Linked DNA regions of Homo sapiens. The protein of the gene in region 3 interacts with the protein of the main gene of each other region in a pairwise test. Each region holds a gene or a part of one and is shown on either strand. Other genes may lie near its edges.

Evidence for each region.
Region 1: the proteins of PLLP (region 3) and PGRMC2 interact in binary tests that used the Homo sapiens proteins (3 or more experiments, as listed by UniProt).
Region 2: the proteins of PLLP (region 3) and VMA21 interact in binary tests that used the Homo sapiens proteins (3 or more experiments, as listed by UniProt).

What each region holds. Positions count from the first base shown.
Region 1 is NC_000004.12:128,277,793-128,284,816, reverse strand, and holds part of PGRMC2 (membrane-associated progesterone receptor component 2), read left to right. Parts: intron 1-7,024. UniProt on the Homo sapiens protein: Required for the maintenance of uterine histoarchitecture and normal female reproductive lifespan. May serve as a universal non-classical progesterone receptor in the uterus.
Region 2 is NC_000023.11:151,392,905-151,400,226, forward strand, and holds the start of VMA21 (vacuolar ATPase assembly integral membrane protein VMA21), read left to right. Parts: upstream 1-4,301; 5' UTR 4,302-4,404; coding exon 4,405-4,457; intron 4,458-7,322. UniProt on the Homo sapiens protein: Required for the assembly of the V0 complex of the vacuolar ATPase (V-ATPase) in the endoplasmic reticulum.
Region 3 is NC_000016.10:57,281,673-57,289,583, reverse strand, and holds the start of PLLP (plasmolipin), read left to right. Parts: upstream 1-4,911; 5' UTR 4,912-5,043; coding exon 5,044-5,178; intron 5,179-7,911. UniProt on the Homo sapiens protein: Main component of the myelin sheath that plays an important role in myelin membrane biogenesis and myelination. Plays an essential function in apical endocytosis. Regulates epithelial development through the regulation of apical endocytosis.

The sequences.
Region 1 (7,024 bases), on a different chromosome or scaffold from region 3:
CTATAAAACAGATACAAGTTCAGTTTTGCTTTTAATTTTTATTTTCATCCTCATAAATTAAGCAGTTTTGTAGCAGAATAATTCAGAAGCAGTAATTGTTAGTTTCTATGCCTAGCCAATATCTACCCTAATTTCACAATAATGGTTTTAGGATTAAATTTTGTGAGATTTTTCCATAATGCTAAACATGTGTTTATTTTTAGTCATACATTTTTAAAGTTCAGGCTCTTAATTAAATATTGACAGTGTAATTTGGTGGAGTATACACATTTTGGCAAACAGTTGGCATTAACTGTATTTGCCAATATTAAATTTAGTAACAGATCAGGCACTTGGCCAGCAGGTGAGGAAAGTTTGGTCATGTAAAAAACTGAATACAGGAGGAGAAAGAAAACCAGATTCGTTAAGCACCCACAATATCAGATCCATTAATTTTTTTATCTCCATAATTCCTCAGTGAAGTTGGTAAGTATTCCTGCTCTACAGGTGGGGAGTCTGAGGTCTAGGTATTTTAGGTAAATTGGCTTGGATTACATGTATGTCTAATAAATCCAGATGGATATTACCACACAGCTTATCTATACTATTTCTAGTAAACTGCATCCTGTGATAAACTTGTAGAGAATCTTACTGTTGTTTTTCTTTATACTCTTCCCTGGTTCCCATAAATCCAAGGATTTAAAGCCTCAAAAAAAACATGCCTTTCGGCCAGGCACGGTGGCTCACGCGTGTAATCCCAGCACTTTGGGAGGCTGAGGCAAGCGGATCACTTGAGGTCAGGAGTTTGAGACCAGACTGTCCAACATGGTGAAACCCCATCTCTACTAAAAAAAAAAAAATAAAAATAAAAAAATAAAGGCCAGGCACGGTGGCTCATGCCTTAATCCCAGCACTTTGAGAGACCAAGGCGGGCAGATCACCTGAGGTCAGGAGTTCGGGACCAGCCTGGCCAACATGGCCAAACCCTGTTTCTACAAAAATACAAAAAAAAATTAGCTGAGCTTGATGGTGGGTGCCTGTAATCCCAGCTACTGGGGAGGCTGAGGCAAGAGAATCACTTGAACCTAGGAGGTGGAGGTTGCAGTGAGCTGAGATCTCGCCATTGCACTCCAGCCTGGATGACAGAACGAGACTCTGTCTCAAAAAAAAAAAAAAAATGCTTTTATGGCTTTATGTTATACTGCCCAAAATGGTGGCCCCAGGTGGCTAATTAAAAGTAAATTAATTAAAATTAGATATAATTAAAAATTGAGTTCCTTAGTAACACTAGCCACATATAAAGTGCTGAGCCCACCATGGCTACCATTTTGGACAGTGCACTTTGTATATTTTCATATTGTGAGACTGGCGTGCCACCTACTGCACTAACAAGGCACCTCTTAGAGTATTTCTGTCTTCCCAGAGAGTTGTTGAAAACAACACTGATTCTAAAGGTCAGAGGAGGAGAAGGAGGAAACTCCATTTATTGAGCTTAGTATCGCTAATTTTCAAACAGCCCTATGAGATTGCCCAAAGCCACATATCTAGTAGGTGGCAACACTAAAAATTAAATCCAGATTTTCATAGCTTCAATCCTTCCCATTGTATTACAACATAGTCTATTCAGTTTCACATGTTTACAGAATCATAAGTTTTGAAGACTCAAACAGCTAGTATAATTTTTAACAATTTTATTTAATATTACTGCAATGGAACTTTACCAAAACAGTGCTTTTATTTTTTTGGAATGGCAAAAAATTATACACTTGACTTTTTGATAGTTTATTTTGCGTTGTTGAACCTTGCAATACTGCTGCTCCCTTATTCCAGGTGGAGTATTCTTTGACATATACCAAAGCTATATTTTTTCCAACTTACCTTTTAAATTCCACTGAAAGAAAAAAGTCACGTAAGAAGAACCCCATGAGATGCCTAATATTTAGGAGGTTGGGGAAAAGAACACATGTACCTTGAAGTGTTTTTCCTCCATTTTAAACTTTATCTTCAATTTGTTCACTTTTATTTAACACTTTAGTTTGCAGAATTGGAAACTCTGTGTTTGCAGAGTTGCATCATAAAAACTGGACCCAATCTTACCTATTTCTTCATGGATGTCCTAAAGTTGCCACTGCCCACCTCTCATCCCAGCTTCTTGCTTTGAAGCCAACTGGCTTTGTTGTTTGGGCTAATGCCCATATGCATCTATTACCTACCAGTAAGATAAAAGGATTAGCTAGGTTTTCTGATGATTTTTTATATTCTGCTCAAATTTCTACTAGTTATTTCTATTATAACTACTTAGTTGGCTCTGAATTCAACATCATCCCGTTGTTTTTAATCTTTGAGGGAATCGTATTTGTGTTAAATCCTAAAGCATATTATAAAAGGATAGCTTGAAACCAGAAGCTGTTATTCAGGGTGGAAGAAAGGAGTAGATTTAATAACATCTGGAATTAGCCATTCAAGTTCTTTTAATTGTTTTTTCAACACTCTGACATAGACCACTCCTTTCCCTGTGCACCCAAGACAGACATGACTGTATAACTCCTGTATTCTTTTGGAGCCTATATCCAGTCTCAGGATCTTTAATAATAGGATTTCAGCTCCATTTTTAAATACTGAGGAAGACTTCCCTGGATTTCATTACAGTAAAAGCTTAAGAGATGAGAAATGGAGTTAACTGAGTCTTCAAAACAGATGTGTTCCTATCCTCATGGAGTTAATAGTCTATTAAGGAAGAGAGGCAGTAAACAAGGATTTCAGTATGTAATTATAATCTGTAATATGCTATAAAAGAAATTAATAGAATGGGAATAGAGGGTAACAAAGGACTTTATTTAGATTAAGTGGCTAAGCAAGGTTACCTTTTTTATGTTAGATTCTCGAGAAAAAGGGCTCGACATTTAAGCAAAAACCTAACAGAGCCAGCCATACAAAGATTGGGTATGAGAATGTTCTGAAGTGAGATTGTTACTATGCTTTCTATACCGAGCAAAGCCATCTAGCAGTAGATCTAGAACTGATCATACTAGAAACCTCTTTAACACTGTTGATTTTCAGATTTTACTTCAGCCTTTATCTGATTAGTATTAACACAATATTTCATTTTCCATCCCTTTTAGTCAATCTGTGTTGTTTTATTTTTCTCACATTAATGACATATAGCTGGATTTTTTCATTTAATATTAGCACTATGTCCTTTAATAGCTTAATTAGTGTATATGTTTTGTGATTACGGGTATATTTAGGTTTATTTCTATCATCTTATTTTGTGATTTCTCTTCACCTTACTTTTCTTTGCCTCTTTTCCCACTATTTTTCCTTCTCTGATTGATTTTTTTATTTCTTCCATTTTCTCTCCTCTACTGATTTGGATGTATTCTATTTCTATCCTTTTAGTGATTTCCTTAAGTTTTTGCTATAGATGACTATCCTATGCTTCTGAACAATATAAGAATTTTAGCCAAACATCATTTTAGTGTCAATTTGAAAAAGCTGCCTCTTTAAGATACTTTACTGACATTTGACAGATTATTTCTTAATAAATAAGCAAAACTGCCATGACTACAAATATGGATAGTATCCCCTGCGTTGTACATAGTCATATGTTGAGGCCCTGGTTAGAAAGCTTTAACTCTGATTCCTCCCCCATCCTGTTTTCCACAGTATCACTATTAGACTTTAGCTTCACTTTGTTTTTTCAAACTCCACCCCAAAATTGATGAAATTATTATCTTTTTAATATAGTCCTTGTTTAAATTTACTAACATGGTTATCATTTTTTTAATTCACTGTTGTTTCTTGCATCTCATTTCTTTGGGGTTCACTTTTTATTTTAGTGAGGTGTGTCCTATAGTTTTTCACTGGCAGGAAAAAATTTTTTATTTTTCCTCACTCAGGAATAATAGTTTGGGTTTAGAATATAAAATTGTAGATTGGGCCAGGCGCAGTGGCTCATGCCTATAATCCTACCATTTTTGGGAGACCAAGGTGGGAGGACTGCTTGAGCCCAGCAGTTCAAGACTAGCCTGGGCAATATGGCGAGACTCTGTCTCTTACAAAAATATAAAAAATTAGCTAGGCATAGTGACATGCACCTGTGGCCCCAGCTACTCAAGAGTCTGAGGTATTAAGATCGCTTGAGCCCAGAAGATCAATGAGCCTTGATAACACCACTGCACTCAACCTGGGTGACAGAGCAAGACCCTGTCTCAAAAAAAAATGTAAATTGACCTTATTATACCTCAACTCTTGAGTAGCGTTATGCCACTGTCTTCCACTTGTTGGTGAGGAGTCGGCTTGTAGTTTCTCTTTACTTTTATTAATCTTTTTCTTCCTTTTGGTTGTAGTTGAGATCTTTTTGTCTTTGGGGTTTTGCTATTTTACTAGGATTTGTCCAGGTATGGATTTGATTTTATTTACCATGTACCAAACTCTACTCAAGTCTGTGGATATATTGTCCTTTTTTTTTTTTTTTTTTTTTTCCCAGAAAATTTGCTGTTACTTATTGCCTCTTCCATTATCTCTGTTCCTTCCTCTGGAACTGTTAATAGATATACATTAGGTTTTCATTCTATTCTTAATGTCTCTTAATCTTTCCTTTTGTACCATTTCTTAATAATTTTAAGCAAATTTACTTTAGTTCTTTAATCTGCTTCTGTATCTGTTATATGTGCCCACTCCTCCATGATGGTTTGTTTCTTCATGTAGTTTATATTTTTTATTGTGAACTTATTATCTTCAGTAGTTACTTTTTTTAATTTTGGAGTATTTCCTGTAAAATTCCATGAGCCCTAAGTTGTGAAAGAGGTAAAGTGCTTTGGGTATGTTGCAAAATAGGGCCTCACGTAAGTTAAAACAATGATTTTTTAAATTAAGTAATACATGCTCAAAATAGAAAATTCAAAAGGATATACAGTGAAAAATAAGTCTACTTCCCACAACTAGTCCCAGCCACCATGTTCCCTTCCATAGCAGCAAAGCACCAGTCTACGTATTGTTCTAGAGCTATTTTGGGTGCAAGTACAAGCATGTGGATATCTTCCTTTCCCCCCACACTAATTATAGTATACTATGCATACCCTTCACAATATTTTAATATCACAAGAGCCTTTGACATCAGTATAGAGAGCCATCTTATTCTTTTGAATACATGCATAATATTCTATTTTATGAATAAGTCATAATTTAACAGTCCACTGTTAACATTTGTTTTCAGTCTCCTGTTATTGCATGATGCTGCAATAAATATGTACATGTCATTTTACACATGTGTGTAAAATTATGATTATAAAGTAAATTCCTGGAAATAAAATTACCGAGGCTTGGGGTATGGATATTTTTAATTTGGATTCTTGTTTCTAAACTGCCCTTCAGAGAGGTTGGACCAATTTACACTTGATGAAAATGCCTGTTTCTCACTTCTTGCCAAAAACGTGGTATTAAGCTTCTTGGTCTTTGTCACTCTTGAGAGGTTAAAATGGTATCTCAATATTTGTTTAAATTTACATTTCTCATTTACTTAATGAGGTTGGACTTCTTTTTAAAAAGTTGAGTCATTTATGATGCCTTTTCTACAAATTGTTTATTCATATATCCTTTGCCACAGTTTTTCTCTTTTTTTTTTTTTGAGACAGAGTTTCACTCTTGTTGCCCAGGCTGGAGTGCAATGATGCAATCTCGGCTCACTGCAACCTCTGCCTGCTGGGTTCAAGCGATTCTCCTGCCTCAGCCTCCCGAGTAGCTGGGATTGCAGGCATGCGCCACGACACCCAGCTAATTTTGTATTTTTAGTAGAGACGGGGTTTCTCCATGTTGGTCAGTCTGGTCTCGAACTCCTGACCTCGGGCAATCCGCCCACCTCAGCCTCCCAAAGTGCTGAGATTACAGGCATGAGCCACTGCGCCCAGCCCTGCTGCAGTTTTTCAATCATCATATTGATCGTACAGATTTTAGGTGTTCTTTATAAAGTAAATCAGCCTTTGCCGCAAATATTTTTTCTAGTTTGTCCTTTTACTTATTTATGGTGTTTTTTTGAACCACACAAAGTTTTGGTTTTATGTATTCAAATTTATCTTTTCTTTTATAGCTGCTAAGTTATGTATTATATTTAAAGACTTTATGCACTTAAAATTGTTTTTAAAAATCTGTAGTTTTTTTAGTACTTCTGTGGTCTCAGTTTTTTAGTTCCATTTGAAATTGATTTTGCTTTAAGATGTGAAATTAGAGTCCAAATTTGGTGGGGTGGTGGGTGTTTGTTTGTTTTTGAGAAGGAATCTTGCTCTGTCACCCAGGCTAGAGTGCAGTGGCGCCATCTCGGCTCACTGCAACCTGCGTATCCCGGGTTCAAGCGATTCTCCTGCCTCAGCCTCTTGAGTAACCGGGATTACAGGCGCCCACCACCGTGCCCGGCTAATTTTTATATTTTTAGTATAAGAGACAGGGTTTCACCATCTTGGCCAGGTTGGTCTCAAACTCCTGACCTCGTGATCTACCCGCCTTGGCCTCCCAAGGGGTTGTGTTTTTTAACAGAAGGTTATCTAGTTGTCCCAACATGTTTCCCCAACAGGGGAATAATCCCTTTTTCCTAATACTTGAAGTATTATCTTTAGTGTTCATTAATTCTTATAGATATTTGAGTTCATACTATTTTTTCACCTTGGAATTTTCATTCTGCATGGGTTGCATAAACTCAGGCCCCACTCCCATAAGTGGCACGGGCCTGGGCTTTTAATTTTTCTGTCTTTTCTTTACCCCAGCCTACCCATGCACCCTGGAGTTAAGGCCATATGCTCAGTTCACAATGTTGCTGAGCGCTTTTGACAGTAGCTCAAATTTCAGAAGCAAGATTGCACTTTCAGTCACTTATAGAATCATACTATTCAAGAGATTATTTAGTTTGGTCTCAACTTCAGGCAGGTAAAATAATTTTCCTAATTTATATTTGAGGGATCTAAGGACTATGGAAATCGAGACTTGTTGATTGTGAGTGGATCCTCTAGAACCCAAGTATCTGTCTTCTTGAGAGGTATTATTTCAGTTTTAC
Region 2 (7,322 bases), on a different chromosome or scaffold from region 3:
AAATGGAACTATGCTTTTTCACCAGGGGGCATATTTTACCAATTTTTTTTTTTAAGACATCACAGCCTACATTACAAAGAAGCCAGAGTTTCTCTCTCTCTTTTTTAATATGAGTTTTGTTGATTGTACAGTGGAGCTTATTTCTATTTTCCTTATGTCTTAGTTTTAAAAACACCGTGCTGTTCAGGTATAGGCCTTGGCAAGTATCAGTTGGTGTTTCAATATGGTTGTTCCATCCAATCCCACAGCCAGCCACCCAAAAGGAAACTTCAAGAAACGAAGTTTTTTCGGGTAAGTAAAGCAATTTGGGGTTGCAAAACGTGTCTTTGGGTGTATACTTTTCACGTCACTGGGTTAATAGTACAGAAGTTTATAACAATATGGTGGAGAAAACGTGTCTTACAAGTAGTACAGAAGTTTACAACAATATGGTGGAGAAAACATGAGACAGAATTAGGAACTATACATTCTCTAATTCTATCACTGACCTAGGGAATTTGGGGCAAATCACTTCCCATCTTTAGCTGTCAGTTTTCTCAACTAAAATTAAAGTGCCAAACTGGGGCTCTTTCAGTTTGAGAATCAGTTTCTGACTTTAAGGGGCATTGGGAAGCCTTCACCAGACTCTGAAATTTTCCCTGGCCTCAGTTTTTCCACTTATGAAGTGGGGATGGTATAAATTGTAGGGACTGTGAATATGCTCAGTAAAATGAAGCACAAGACACATGCTTTAGGGCAGCAGTGGTAGGAAACCACTATTATGGTTTCCTCTGTAGTGGCCACACCCCCTAACACACCATTTCATTCCCATGGCAACGGCTCTGTGTGGGCTCCACTTGCCTCTAATTCTTTTGTAGCACTGCAGGTAGGAGGTTTCAGGGCTCTGTTGAGAGGGCTGACTGCTGGCTAGATTCTTTCCTTCTAGTACAGATTCTGAGTTTATTTTTAAAGTTCTGTGTCTACCTCAGTAAGCTCACAGTAAATGTTGGTAGAGTGTATAAGTCAGCATAAAAAAGAGATATGGCAGGGCGTGGTGGCTCACGCCTGTAATCCCAGCACTTTGGGAGGCCGAGGCGGGCGGATCACGAGGTCAGGAGATCGAGACCATCCTGGCTAACACGGTGAAACCCCCGTCTCTATTAAAAAAAATACAAAAAATTAGCCGGGCGTGGTGGCAGGCGCCTGTAGTCCCAGCTACTCGGGAGGCTGAGGCAGGAGAATGGCGTGAACCCGGGAGGCAGAGCTTGCAGTGAGCGGAGATCGCGCCACTGCATTCCAGCCTGGGCGAAAGAGCGAGACTCTGTCTCGAAATAAATAAATAAATAAATAAATAAATAAATAAATAAATAAATAAGAGATATGAGAGCTTTTGTTTATATTTAAAAACACTACTATGTAAATTACATGAGAAGTTTTTCCCACAGCAAATCTCATTTATGAATGGTTCCTGTTTAAGTTATCACACAAGTGCAACTTAGGCTGTTAATGTGGGAGTGTAAAAGTGCCAGCCTGGGAGTCAGGAGTCAAGCTACATCCCACTAGATAAATGTGTGACTTCCCACAAGTCCCGTCCCCTCTCTGGGCCGCAGTTTTCTCATCTGTACAAGGAAGTGTTTAGACTACTGTTATGGGTTGAATTGCTGGCCCGGTCACCCACACCATCCCCAAATTCATATGCTGAAATCCTAGCCCCCAGTACCCCAGAGTGAAACAGCGTCGCTGCAGATGTAAATAATTAAGTTCATACAGGTGTAGGGTGGGCCCCTAATGCATTATGACTGGTGTCCTTATAAAAAGGGAAAATTTGGACAGAAACACAGACGCAGGGAGAAGGCCGTTTGAAGAAAAATGCAGAGATCAGGGTGATGCTTCTACAAGCCAAGAAATGCCAAAGATTGTCAGCAAACCACCAGAAAACAGAAGAGGGGCCTGGAACAGTCCTTCCTTCACAACCTTCAGAAGGAACCAGCCTCGCCAACATCTCCATCTCAGACTTCTAACCTCCTGAACTGGGAGATGATTAACTTCTGTTGTTGGAGCCACTTAGTTTGTGGCATTTGTTATGGCAGCTCCGGCAAACTACAACAACAGTGGTTCCCAGTTTTTTTGGGGGGGGGTGGACAGAGTCTTACTCTGTCACCCAGGCTGGAGTGCAGTGCAGTGGCACGATCTTGGCTCACTGCAACCTCCGCCTCCTGAGTTCAAGCGATTTTCTGCCTCAGCCTCCTGAGTAGCTGGGATTACAGGCATGTGCCACCACGCCAAGCTGGTTCCCAATTTTTTCACCATCAAGAACTATTTTGCTCTTTTTCCTTTTGTGGACCCAATTTATTTATTTAACAAATATTTATTAGTTCCTACTATATACCAGGCCCTACTCTAGGTATTGGGGAACAATAAGTCACAATTCCGTTCCCCCACTTGTGTTCATTCTATGTTTTAAAAGATTTATTCTATTAAGTATACTGTGGCTTATTTTCATAATAATCTGTGAACAGTCTTTTCTTATGGGATAACTAGGATAACCTCATCATGATATAGTAAGTGTCAAAAATCAAAGAACGGTGATATTTTAAGTAGCTTTGGATGCCTAACAGTAAATAGATTCATTAGGTTTTTAAAAATATTAAAAACTGCCTTCAGAACCACCATTACTACATTTATGGGTCCCTAGGGATTGAAGGACCTCACTGCAGGCTGATTAGCTAGAGCAGGGGTCAGCAAACTCTTCTGTAAAAGGGTCAGATGGTAAGAATTTTGGGCATTGCAGATCATTTTGGGCGTTGCAGATCATACCGTCTCTGTCACAACTACTCAACATTGCTGTTGTAGATAATACAAACAAATGAGAATGGCTGAGCTCCAATAAAATTTTATCAATAGACGCTGAAATTTGAATTTCATATAAATTTCACGTGTCATGTTATTCTTTTGACGTTTTCAACAATTTAAAAAGGAAAAACCATTCTTACCTCAGGGCTGTAGAAAAACAGGTGGTAGGCTCCATGTATTAGGTCGGCTGGCTCAGTTTGCCTACCCCAGAGCTAGATTCTCTTTGTACCCCAAGTTCTTACATTAGGTGGTTCTTACTCACCTAAAGGTCTAGATGAGGCCCAGATAGAGATTACTATTATTTTTATTAAATATTTTACAGTTTGTTTTTTAGAGACGGAGTCTTGCTATGCTGCCCAAGCTGCTCTGGAACTACTGGCCTCACGCAATCCTCCTGCCTCAGCTTCCCAAAGTGTTGAGATTACAGGCGTGAGCCAGCACAGTCAGCCCTAGAGGGGGATTATTCAGTTTGAACTAAAACCTGGACTTCCTGCTGCCCAGTCCATTGCCCTTTCCACCACTCTAAGCTGCTGGTTTAGTCATGATTTCAGATGTGGTCTTTGTATCCATGTGGTGCAGAAAATAGCTGTGTGGTCAGCGGCCCTTTCCAGGCGCTGACCATGTTAAGGGCTGTCCTCTTATTAGCAGCCAGTGGCAACTTAATTTTGTCAAGCCTGACTCCAGACTTACCCACCCTTTCGTTTTTACCTCTCTCGGGTTGCGCAGGCCCGGGAGGCCCATCTGTTCTTACTATTTGAGTCCCTGTTGTCTCATTGGCGGCTTTCTGAGCAGCTGCAAAATATGTTTTTAACTTTTAAGTGGAAGTTGGGGGTCACTGGCATCGAGTCTGGAACAGTCATTCTCAGCAAGAGCTCTTTGAACTCTGACATTCTCTAGTTTTACGGACTCGGGTGAGTGTTTTAACTCCTCCCAGCTGCCAAGGGCTTGACTTCCTACCACTGCGGGCAGTAATTAATGAGGCATTTATTTGCTCAAGTAGTGGCGAAATAATGCGCACTGCTTTTTTGTGTTGTCGTCGGCGGAATACGCTCAGTTGCCTAGCACCACAGCCCTCTGGCTGGTAGTCCCTCTTCGCGGCTCATATGCTCGGGTCTCCTTGCGGCCCCCAGCTCAGCGACCGAGACGCAGACGAGGACCAGTGTTCACGCGAGTTCAGGGGGCGGCGTAGCCGCCGCCCGCCCAGGAGGACCATGTTGCGCGGCAAGTCCCGGCTCAACGTGGAGTGGCTGGGCTACTCGCCAGGCCTGCTCCTCGAGCACAGGCCCCTCCTGGCAGGGCGCACGCCGCGGAGCCACCGCCGGTAAGTCATGTGAGCGCCCGCCCCCGCGCCGGCAACAGCCCTGCGTCGCTGCGGCGCGCCGCGCCGCGCCGCGCCTGCGTACTGTGGCCCGCCGCCCGGCGCGAACGGGCACTTCCGGCGCGAACGGGCACTTCCGGCGCGAACCGCTACTTCCGGTGCGAACCGCCTCGGCCGTTCCCTCGCGGAGCTTACTGAGCGCGGCCGCCGAGCCCAGCTCCGCCGCCGAGCGCCTGTGCCGGCACGGCTACACCATGGAGCGCCCGGATAAGGCGGCGCTGAACGCACTGCAGCCTCCTGAGTTCAGGTAGCCCTGAGCGGGGCCTGGACCGCGAGGCGGACTGGCCCCAGCCTGGAGCAGGGCTTGAGGGAAGGCCCTAGCTGAATGGGTGGGCGTGAGGTCTGGACCCCGGGGACCTGGCCTCAGGGAAGGGGGCGGGGAAAGCAGGTTGGAGCCTGAGACGTCTAAACTCCCGGCCCCGAACTTTCGCTCGGGAACAAGGGATCCGGGGTCATGGGGAATAGGTCAGTGGGCCTTCAGCTCATGCTCCTATCCTAGCACTTTCTCTCGCTGTGTCTATATTGCAGTCTCTTTCATTACCGCAGGGTCAGCCTTCTGAGGACAGGAATGCAGTCTCCTTCATCTCCGTGTTCCCTAGGGGGCCTGCATAGTCGGGGCTTAATAAATGTTTGCTGTATGAATGAAGGAGTAGAAGGGAATAGTCCCCTGGTGTGAGATTGCTTCACTTGGGGAATCAGTAAGATAGAGGCTGGTGACTGAGTTGAAGGAATGTATGAGAGAGCAGGTGGTTCTGGCCCACCCCAGTAGGCAAGGGAGTGGTGAGGGAGTTAGCTATCATTCGTTAAGACCTACTGTATGCCAGGCTCAGTGCACGTGCTTTACATACATTGTCAGAATTCTTAATTTCTCTAACTGCTTGATTTCCCAATTTTGAAGAGGATGCAGTTGAGGGTAAGTGACTTGAAACTGAGGGTGAGTGATTACAGAATTAGGCGACAAAGTTAGTATGTAATTGAAGCTAACGTTTGACCAAGCTCACTGACTCCAAAGCCCACGATCTTTGGAGCTCTGTGATGCCTTCTCTTTCCGACAGGGTCATTGTGAGTTTTTTTTTTTTTTTTTTAACTTTTATTTTAGGTTCATGAGTACATGCGCAGGTTTGTTATATAGGTAAACTGCATGTCACGGGGGCTTGGCGTACAGGTAATTTTGTCACCCAGGTAATAAGCATAGTACCCGATAGGCGTTTTTTCTGATTCTCTCCCTCCTCCCAGCCTCCACCCTCAAGTAGACCGCACTGTCTGTTGTTCCTCTCCTAGTGTCCATCTGTTCTTGTTGTTTAGTTCCCACTTATGAGAACGTGCAGTATTTGGTTTTCTTTTCCTGTCTTAATTTGCTTAGAATAATGGCTTCCAGCTCCAGTCATGTTGCTGCAAAGGACATGATCTCATTCTTTTTTATGGCTGCATAGTGTTCCATGGTGTATATGTACCGCATTTTCTTTATCCAGCCTCAATGTGGGTTTTTTTTTAATTATTCATTTATGAGAATACCAACATATTTTTATTAGATACACTTACAGCATAGTCCTTCTAGACTGATTCTGGTTTCCTAATGGAATTTGCAGTGAAATCTTGACTGTGGGAGAAAGAATTCCTGTTGTCTTACTTGCTACAAAAGGGAATGTGGTAGGCTCTGTCTGCTCAATGTTGGCTGCAGAAGTTTGTATGAAGTGGGAAAACTAGGTGGTGTTATAAATGGAGGCAGATTAAGGTTCATCCTGAACTTTTTCCTTTGTGTGAGGACAACTTTAATTCCAGCCTTTCTCATTCCTCACTTCTAACAAATCTCTGCTCAGTAACACCCAAAGATACATAGGATAAATCAATTGAATAGCATCAGTTGCTTTGTCTTGGATAAGCCACTGATTTTACCCAAGGTGGCTTGCATCAGCAAAACCAACAGCTCTTGTGGCTGGAATCCAGGGAGAAAATGTCCTATAAACAGTAGAGGAAGTTTGCTAGTTTTCAAAAGTTTGTATGTACACTTTGACTTAATGCTTAGTCCCATATTAGTGAGGTCACAACACAGAAAAGTAGTCACATTTTTGAAGTTTGAGGTAAAGAGAGAAGTGAGAAGGAATTAGCCATAAATTATTAAGGTATGCTGTGTATAGATTGTGTGGGGGCTAGAAATTAATATGTAGAAAGGTTATATTTGGGTGGTGGGATTATAGGTGATTTTGTTTACTTTAAAACATTTTTATGGTGTTATATCATCTTTTCAATAATAAACTTTTTAAAAGCCAGACCAGATAATAGATACTCAAGAGAGGTCATGTAAAGAACAAAACAATCAGTTAACACTTCCTTTCTGTTCCTTTAACAAGTTAGATAATCTGAAAGTTGCATTCCTAAAACATACTTTTTTACTCACCATAGAAACACCAAAGTCAAGTGCTTTTTTTAGGGTGCACAAAAGAATTGGCCAATTAGTGACTCTTTGTATTTTTTGTAGATTCTCCACTGCAGACACTCATACTCTTCATGAGGATTACACAATAAATTTCTCTAAAAATTTACTAGTAGGAAACAGTTTAAGGGAGCTTATGTATATTAAATGAGAGTTGTATAGCTCAGTAATAACCAAAATGAGGCCTGCTAAAAGATGATCCATTTAAGTACCAAAAGAAAATATTAGAACTTTTTTTTTTACAGCAGTAAGCATTTAATTTCTCACACATGTGCAGAGCATGTGATCAAGAAATAGGCATGAGGTTAGTTATATTTAATATATATTTTACTCAATGTTTTTGTGGGTTTTTTGTTCAGGTTCTTTTTAAATAAATTTCATTGTGTATATTTGAGGTTCATAACATGATGTTATGGCATACATATAGTAAAATGATTACTATGGTGAAGCAGATTAATATATCTGTCATCTCACATACTTTTGTGTGTGTGTGACCAGAGGCAGCTAAAATCTTATTTACAAAAGTCCCTAATACCATGCAACTTTATTGCCTATAGTCCTCTTGTACATTAGATATCTCACTTGTTAATCCATATATCTACTGCTTTGTGTCCTTTGATGTATATCTTCCTATTTCCTCCCCTCCAGCCTCCCACCCCCACCGCCATGGTAACTACT
Region 3 (7,911 bases):
GGCTCAGGTGCATTGAGGGGAGGGGGTTGAACATCCCGTTGAGTAAAGGGTTAAGTCAGCATCAACCAGTGATATTTTTAAAGTGTTCATCAGAGCTTGTCTCTCGCCTGCTTAAAACACTCCAGGCCTTGGCCGGGCGCAGTGGCTCACGTCTGTAATCCCAGCACTTTGGGAGGCCAAAGCAGGCAGATCACGCGGTCAGGAGATCGAGACCATCCTGGCTAACACGGTGAAACTCTATCTCTACTAAAAATACAAAAAATTACCCAGGCGTGGTGGCGGGTGCCGGTAGTCCCAGCTACTCTTTGAGGCTGAGGCAGGAGAATGGCGTGAACCCGGGAGGCAGAGCTTGCAGTGAGCTGAGATCACGCCACTGCACTCCAGCCTGGGCGACAAAGCGAGACTCCGTCTCAAAAAAAAAAAACACTCCAAGCCTTAAAATAAAATGTTAGCCCTTCTCCATCATTGTGGTAGGCTGTATAATTGCCACTAAAAGATGTATCAGTGGCTCATGCACTTTGGGAGGTCAAGGCAGGAGGATTGCTTGAGCTCAAGTTCGAGACCAGCCTGGGCATCATGGTGAAACCCAGTCTTTACAAAAAATTGGTGAGTCATGGTGGCTCAAGGACCTGTGGTCCCAGCTACTCAGGAGGCTGAGGCAGGAGGATTGCTTGAAACCTGGAGGCGGAGGTTGTAGTGAGCCAGGATGGCACCACTGCACTCCAGCCTGGGCAACAGAGTGAGACCCTGTCTCAAACAAACAAACAGAACAGATCCTAATTCTTGGAACCTGTCCATTTTACCTTATAAAGTAAAAAGGTCTTTACAGATTAAGTGACTAAATTAAGATTCTTTTTCTTTTTTTTTCCTTTTGAAACAGGGTCTTGCTCTGTCACCCAGGCTGGAGTGCAGAGGCAAAAACATGGTTCACTGTAACCTCAACCTCCTGGGGCTTAAGCAATCCTCCCACCTCAGCCTCCTAAGTAGCTGGAACCACAGGTGTGCACCGCCACGCCCGGCCAATTTTTTTTTTTTTTTTAGAGACAGGGGTATTTGCTGTGTTGCCCAGGCTGGTCTCAAACTCCTGAGCCAAACCCATCCTCCTGCCTTGGCCTCCCAAAGTGCTAGGTTTACAGGCATGAGCCACTGCGCCCAGCCTCAAATTAAGATTCTTTATTTGAGGAAAACTATTCTGGAGTATCTGGGTGGCCCTAACACAATCACAAGTGTCCTTATAAGAGAGGCAGAGAGAGATGTTATACATACAGAAAAGGAGGAGGCCATGTGACGTAGGAGGCAGAGACAGGGTTGATGCAGTCATAAGTTGAGGAATGCCAGCAGGCCCCACCAGGGTTGGAAGAACAAGGATGGGATTCTCCTCTAGACTCTGCAAAGGGAGCATGACCCTCAGGACACCTGATTTTGGCTCTTCCCAAATTTTGGAAGATTTTGGCTCAGTGAAACTGATTTCAGACTTCTGGCCTCCAGGACTACAGGAGAGTAAATTTCTGGGTTTTCTTTTCTTTTTTTTTTTTTGAGACCGTGTTTCACTCTTGTTGCCCAAGCTAGAGTGCAATGGCTCAATCTCAGCTAACTGCAACCTCCGCCTCCCGGGTTCAAGTGATTCTCCTGCCTCAGCCTCCTGAGTAGCTGGGATTACAGGCGTGTACTACCACGCCCAGCTATTTTTTTGTATTTTTAGTAGAAACAGGGTTTCGCCATGTTGGCCAGGCTGATCTGGAACTCCTGACCTCAGGTGATCCACCTGCCAAAGTGCTGGGATTACAGCCGTGAGCCACCGTGCCTGGCCAAATTTCTGTTGTTTTAAGTCACCAAGTTAGAGCAGCCACAGGGCACTAATACAGTCCTCTAAATAGCCTGTGTGATCCGGCCCTGGCCCGTGTTGCCAATCTCACCCTTACTCACTTGGCTCTAGCCCTACCAAGGACCTTTTTCTGTTCTCAAAACTGGTCCAGCCTCAGGGCTCCTGCACTTATTAAATTCTTCCCCCAGAATTCCCAAGGCTAGCCCCTACTCATGATTTGGGTCTCTGCATAAATGTCACCTCTTCCCACAGGTCTTCCTTGACCACCTTAACCCAGAAATCACCTGTGGGTGACTCTGTGTCACATTCCCCCATTTTACTTTAGTCACAGCGTTTGTCACTATCTGAAAGTATTATTCCTCCCGGGTTTATTACTTCTCATCCCCACCAGACAGTGGGATCCAACGACTGAAATCCTATCATTTGTGGCAACACAGATGAACCTGGAGGACATCATGTGAGTGAAATAAGCCAGGCATAGAAAGACAAACACCACGTGGTCTCTCTCATATGTGGAATGAAATAAAGAAGTTGATCTCGGCCAGGTGCAGTGGCTCACGCCTGTAATCCCAGCACTTTGGGAGGCCAAGACAGGTGGATCACCTGATTTCAGGAGTTTGATACCAGCCTGGCCAACATGGTGAAACCTTGTCTCTACTAAAATTACAAAAAATTAGCTTAGCGTGCTGGCGGGCGCCTGTAATCCGAGCTACTCAGGCAAGAGAATTGCTTGAACCTGGGAGGCGGAGGTTGCAGTGAGCCGAGGTCGCGCCATTGCACTCCAGACTGGGCAACAAGAGCAAAACGCCATCTCAAATAAATAAATAAATAAATTGATCTCATAGTAGAGTAGAATAGTGGTTACAGGAGGCTGGGGTGTAGTGGGAGGATACAAAGAGGTTGGTTAACAGGTACAAAGTTACAGTTAGGGCTGGGCATGGTGGCTCACACCTGTAATTCCAGCACTTTGAAAGGCCAAGGCGGGTGGATCGCTTGAGGCCAGGAGTGCGAAACCAGTCTGGGCAACATGGAGAGACCCCATCTCTACAAAAAAATTTAAAAAAATTAGTCAGGGCTGGGCCCAGTGGCTGATGCCTGTAATCCCAGCCCTTTGGGAGGCCAAGGTGGGCGGATCACAAGACCAGCCTGGCCAACATGGTGAAACCCAGTCTCTATTACAGATACAAAAAATTAGCTGGGCATGGTGGCTCGAGCCTGTAATTCCAGCAAGACTCCATCTCAAAAAAAAAAAAAAATTAGTTGGGCATGGTGGCGTGCACCTGTAGTCCTAGCTACTAGGGAGGCTGAGGTGAGAAGATCACTTGAGCCTAGGGGTTGGAGGCTGCAGTAGGCTATGATCATGCCACTGCCCTCCAGCCTGGGTGACAGAGTGGGACCTCGCCTCAAAATAAATAAAAGTAAAAAGAAAAAAATACCAATATTGTACATTTCTTTTCTTTTTTTGTTTTTGTTTTTAGATGGAGTCTGGCTCTGTCACCCAGGCTGGAGTGCAGTGGCATGATTTCAGCTCACTGCAACCTCTGCCTCCCTGGGTTCGAGTGATTCTCCTGTCTCAGCCTCCTGTGTAGCTGGGACTACAGGCACCCACCATCATGCCTGGCTAATTTTTTTGTATTTTTGTAGAGACAGGGTTTTGCCATGTTGACCAGGCTGGTCTCAAACTCATGACCTCTGGTGATCTGCCTGCCTTGGCCTCCCAAAGTGCTGGGATTATAGGCGTGAGCCACAGCGCCTGGCCCTAATATTGTATATTTCAAAATATGGTAGCTAGAAGTGGGGATTTTGAATGTTCTCACCCCAAAGAAGCCATAAATGTATGAGGTGATGGATATGCTAAGTACCTTGATTTGATTTTTTTACACAACGTACACAGGTACCAAAACATCACATGGTACCCCATATTTAGGTACAATTATAGGTTGCCGAAAAAGTAATTGCGGTTTTTGCTATACTTTTATATGCAAAAACCGTATAACTTTTGCACCAACCTAATATTACATGTCAGTTAAAAACAATTTTTTAAGTGGCTCTCTTTTTAAGTGGGTATTTGGGAAAAAAAAAATGTGGGAGCCAAGAAGGCCTTGTCTACTTCGTTTCCTGCTGTATCCACAGGGCCTGGCATGTAGTAGGTGTTCAGCAAACATTGGTTGATGAATGCATGATGACCTATCTGTGCAAACCTCTAGGCTCAAGAGGTGTGTGTGTGTGTGTAAGTATTTTAGGGTGCATGTGTGGCAATGAAACTGTATATGACCTCCCATCTTCTGAGTGACCCCTCCTCCCTCACGCTGTCAGGAGCTTTCTGGGGAATATTTCATTTATTCCCTACAACGCTCTGTGAGGCAGGTTTCCTTCGTATCTATATGACAGACGAGGAAACTGAGGCTCCGCGATCATCTAAGTTATATAAAATATGTTCAGAAGTGAAAACAGCATTAATAGGCAGAAAAGGACCTCCCCCTTCTACCGCTTACCCACCGCTTACCCAGACCCTCCCCTTCCCCGCGCTGGGTCTCCCAGGATTCTTCTTTACTTTCTTTTCTATAAAATACAGACGGGGGGAGGGGGGGCGTCTCACTGTGTTACCCAGGCTGGTCTCGAACTCTTGGCCTGAAATTATCCTTTCACCTTAGCCTCCCAAAGTGCTGCGATCAGAGGCAGGAGCCACCGCATCCAGCCTTCTCCCGGGACTCTTCAAGAGTCGCTGCGCCGGGGCCTAGGCCGAGGGTGCACAGCGCGTAGAAAGCGCCTGGGAGAGCGGTGTCCCCCGCGAGCTACCACAAGTTTATCCCTAGGCGCGGAAGCTACCACGGCCTGGGCGAGAGCCGGGAAATTCCCAGCGGGCGGCTTGCCCCGGGGGAGGCCGGCGAAGCGGTCTAGGCTGGTGCTGGCGGAGCCGATTCACGGACCCGGGGTTGTTTACTGGTCCGGGGAGTGGACGCGGCTGCCCACGAACCGGTCGCGGCTGGGGCGGCGGCGGCGAGCAAAGGGTTAAGGGGGCGGCCCCGGCGGCGGGGGCGGAGCCGGGATCTCGGCCGCACCTGGCGCCCCAGGCTCCCAGCCCCGACGCCTCCTGCAGCGCCTGGAGCCACACAGGGATCCGGAGCCTGGGGGAAAAGCGGCGCGGGAGCCGGCACCCACCGCTGGAGGGGCGGCGACGGCGGCCGTAGCGACCTCGGGAGGCAAGCGGAGCCGCCATGGCCGAGTTCCCGTCGAAAGTTAGCACGCGGACCAGCAGTCCTGCGCAGGGCGCCGAAGCCTCGGTGTCGGCGCTGCGCCCGGACCTGGGCTTCGTGCGCTCCCGCCTCGGGGCGCTCATGCTGCTGCAGCTGGTGAGAGCACGCGCGGGCCCACGGGGTTGGCCGGGGGCTCCCGGTCCGGCCAGGATGGGTGAGGGACTCCGGCGCTGCGTTCATTTTTCGCGAACCTTGCGCTCCCCACCCGGGCTCACACTGTCACCGACGCGCTGCGCGTACCCCTAGGGCGCTTCCCGCACGGACGCCCCCAAGATCGCCCTGCATCCCTCTCACCACGACACTACCCCGTGGCCGTCGCTGCGAGCGTGAGCACCCTGCACCGTGTACAGAGTGCCCACTGCCCGTGCCCCATCGTGCCCCCTCCAAGGTGGTTACCAGCGGCCACAGAAGCCCCCACCGGAGCCACAGTCACTGCGCACAACCCGCCAACCCTTCCCAGCCCTCCCTTCCCTCCTCTCTCTTTTTCACCCCTCTTTCTGCCCGGACAGTGCCCCCAGCCCTCTAGGGAACCCAGTCTGAGGCAAAGTCCACTCTCTGACCACCTTCTGTCCCGCTCCCAGCGGCTCCGGGTGGCCGCACCCATGAACATTCCTCATCTAATCTAGAGGGCACATCCGACTCCCCAACACGCACACTCAGGCACTACCCTGTGGGCGCCCGCGCGGGAGCCGGGCTCTTCTAGCTTTCTCTGGGTGACCCGCCAGGTTTCAGCCGGTTTAGCCAGCCCCACGGGACCGAGATATCGCTGGAGGGAGGGGTTTGTGGGTAGCCAGGGGCAAGACTCCTACTCTCTCCCAGACCCCTGTACAGACCCCAACTGAGGCGGACCCATGGGAACATCCTCCACTCCCACACCAGCCACAGGCCCGGATGTTAGCTTCTTCCTCTGCCACCCTTTCGTGAGGGTCTGGAAGCTGGGTGGGTGCCCTGGGTGGGTGAGGGCCTGATACATTTTCAGAGGACTCAGGTGGAATTGGAGTTGGGCCAGGACCTGTATTTCTTAGCAATCCAGCGAGTGGACATTTCCCATTGTCTCCTATTGCTGGGTGCTAGCGCTGCTGCGAGGCCCAAGCTAGAGGGCAGGGTGGTTGCTTTGGTGCCAGACCCTGGGCTGAGGTCCAGTCTCCCTTCCCTGACCTCTCCAGGTGCGGGCCCACCTCTACCTGGGTCAGTGCTATCTCATTTCAGGATTTCTCAGATCTCTGTGGGCCCCCTCCCCAACCTCTGAATCTCCTGGCGGGTTTGTTTAAAATTTAGATTATTGGACTCCACCCCCGGAAAAAAATGTGCAATCGGAATTTGAATCTCAGGAAGTACAGCCAGAAATTCATTTTTAACAGTTCTCCCAGAGTTTTTTGTTTGTTTCTCTTTTGGGGGGTGGGGGAGAAGGGGAGAAGATTCTGTCTTCTGAGGGAAGAGGTCTAGTTCCTGGAATCATTTAATTCTGCAGATGGGGAGAGCCACTGACCCCGCCACCGCTAGAATGCTCTGCTCTGGGCTGGTTGTGAGGGGCACAGCCATGAGCAGCTGCCTGGCTGCCCAGGGGAGAGCCAGGTGGGTGTGAGAAGTGGTGCGAAAGGGCAGAGGAGAAGGAGAGCAATTTCACGACCAGGAAGGCTTGTTGGAGGAGGTGGTTTTTGAGCAGAGACTTCACTGAAATCTGAGGCAGACGCAGGGAAAGGGTGTTCCAAGGGCAGGGAACAGTGTGAGCCAAGATGTGGTGATGAGAAAGTTGAATTAATTTGCAGGGAGTAGCCAACAGGTTGGTGGTGCTGGAGTTGAAGCACTTGTTTCTGGTGTGGACAGAAGCCAAGGGCCTTGTGTAACTTCTGCGAGCTACAGGGTCTAGGTTCTGTTGGTGGCCTTAAGAGGTTTTGGAACAGAAGAGGGATCTTGCTGGGTGGAGGATGATGACTGGCAAGATCCCTGTGAGGGATCCCTCAGCATCCCTGGTGAGGTGGATCCTGAGGCTGGCCCCTGATGGACAGGAGGATTGCTTGTGGCCAGAAGTTCAAGACCAGCCTGGGCAACATATTGAGACCCTGTCTCTACAAAAAAAAGGAAAAAAAAAATAGCCAGGCATGGTGGTATGCGCCTGTGGTCTCAGCTACTTGGGAGGCTGAGGTAGGAGGACCCCTTGTGCCTGGGAGTTTGAGGCTACAGTGACTTTGATCGCACCACTGCACTCCAGCCTGGGTGACAGAATGAGACTTTGTCTCAAACAGACAAACACACACACAAAAAAAAAAAAAGAAAAGAAAAAAGAAAGAGACTAGCAATAGGGGCAATAGGGGGAATGGAAGGCATTGGAGTAAGAGGAGGATGTTGCTGCTGTGGGCCGCAAGGGTCTTGGTAGCTTCCTCTAGGGCAGGCTTGTGTTCCTGATTGGGGTTGGGATGGGTGGGGGCATCCCCTGTGGCCTCAGCAATCCAGCCCTGCGCATCTGGGTCCCATTACACAGACGTAGACATTGAGGTCTAGTTAGAAGGACTTGCCAGGAGTCCTGTAATAGAGCTTGGCACTTGGGTCTCTTGACTCTCAGGGACTGGGTGTGAGGGAAGTGGGCTCCTTTTGCTCCCTACCTGCAGTGCCTTTGAGGGGATGAGGGTCTTCCATCAGAGTTCTGAAAATGACCTGCACATTTTAGTGCCTTAGAAATCTGCTTGTTGGGGCCAGGTGTGGTGGCTCACGCCTGTAATCCCAGCACTTTGGGAGGCCGAGGTGGGCAGATCACGAGGTCAGGAGACGGAGACCATCCCGGCTAACAGGGTGAAACCCCATCTCTACTAAAAATACAACAAAATTAGC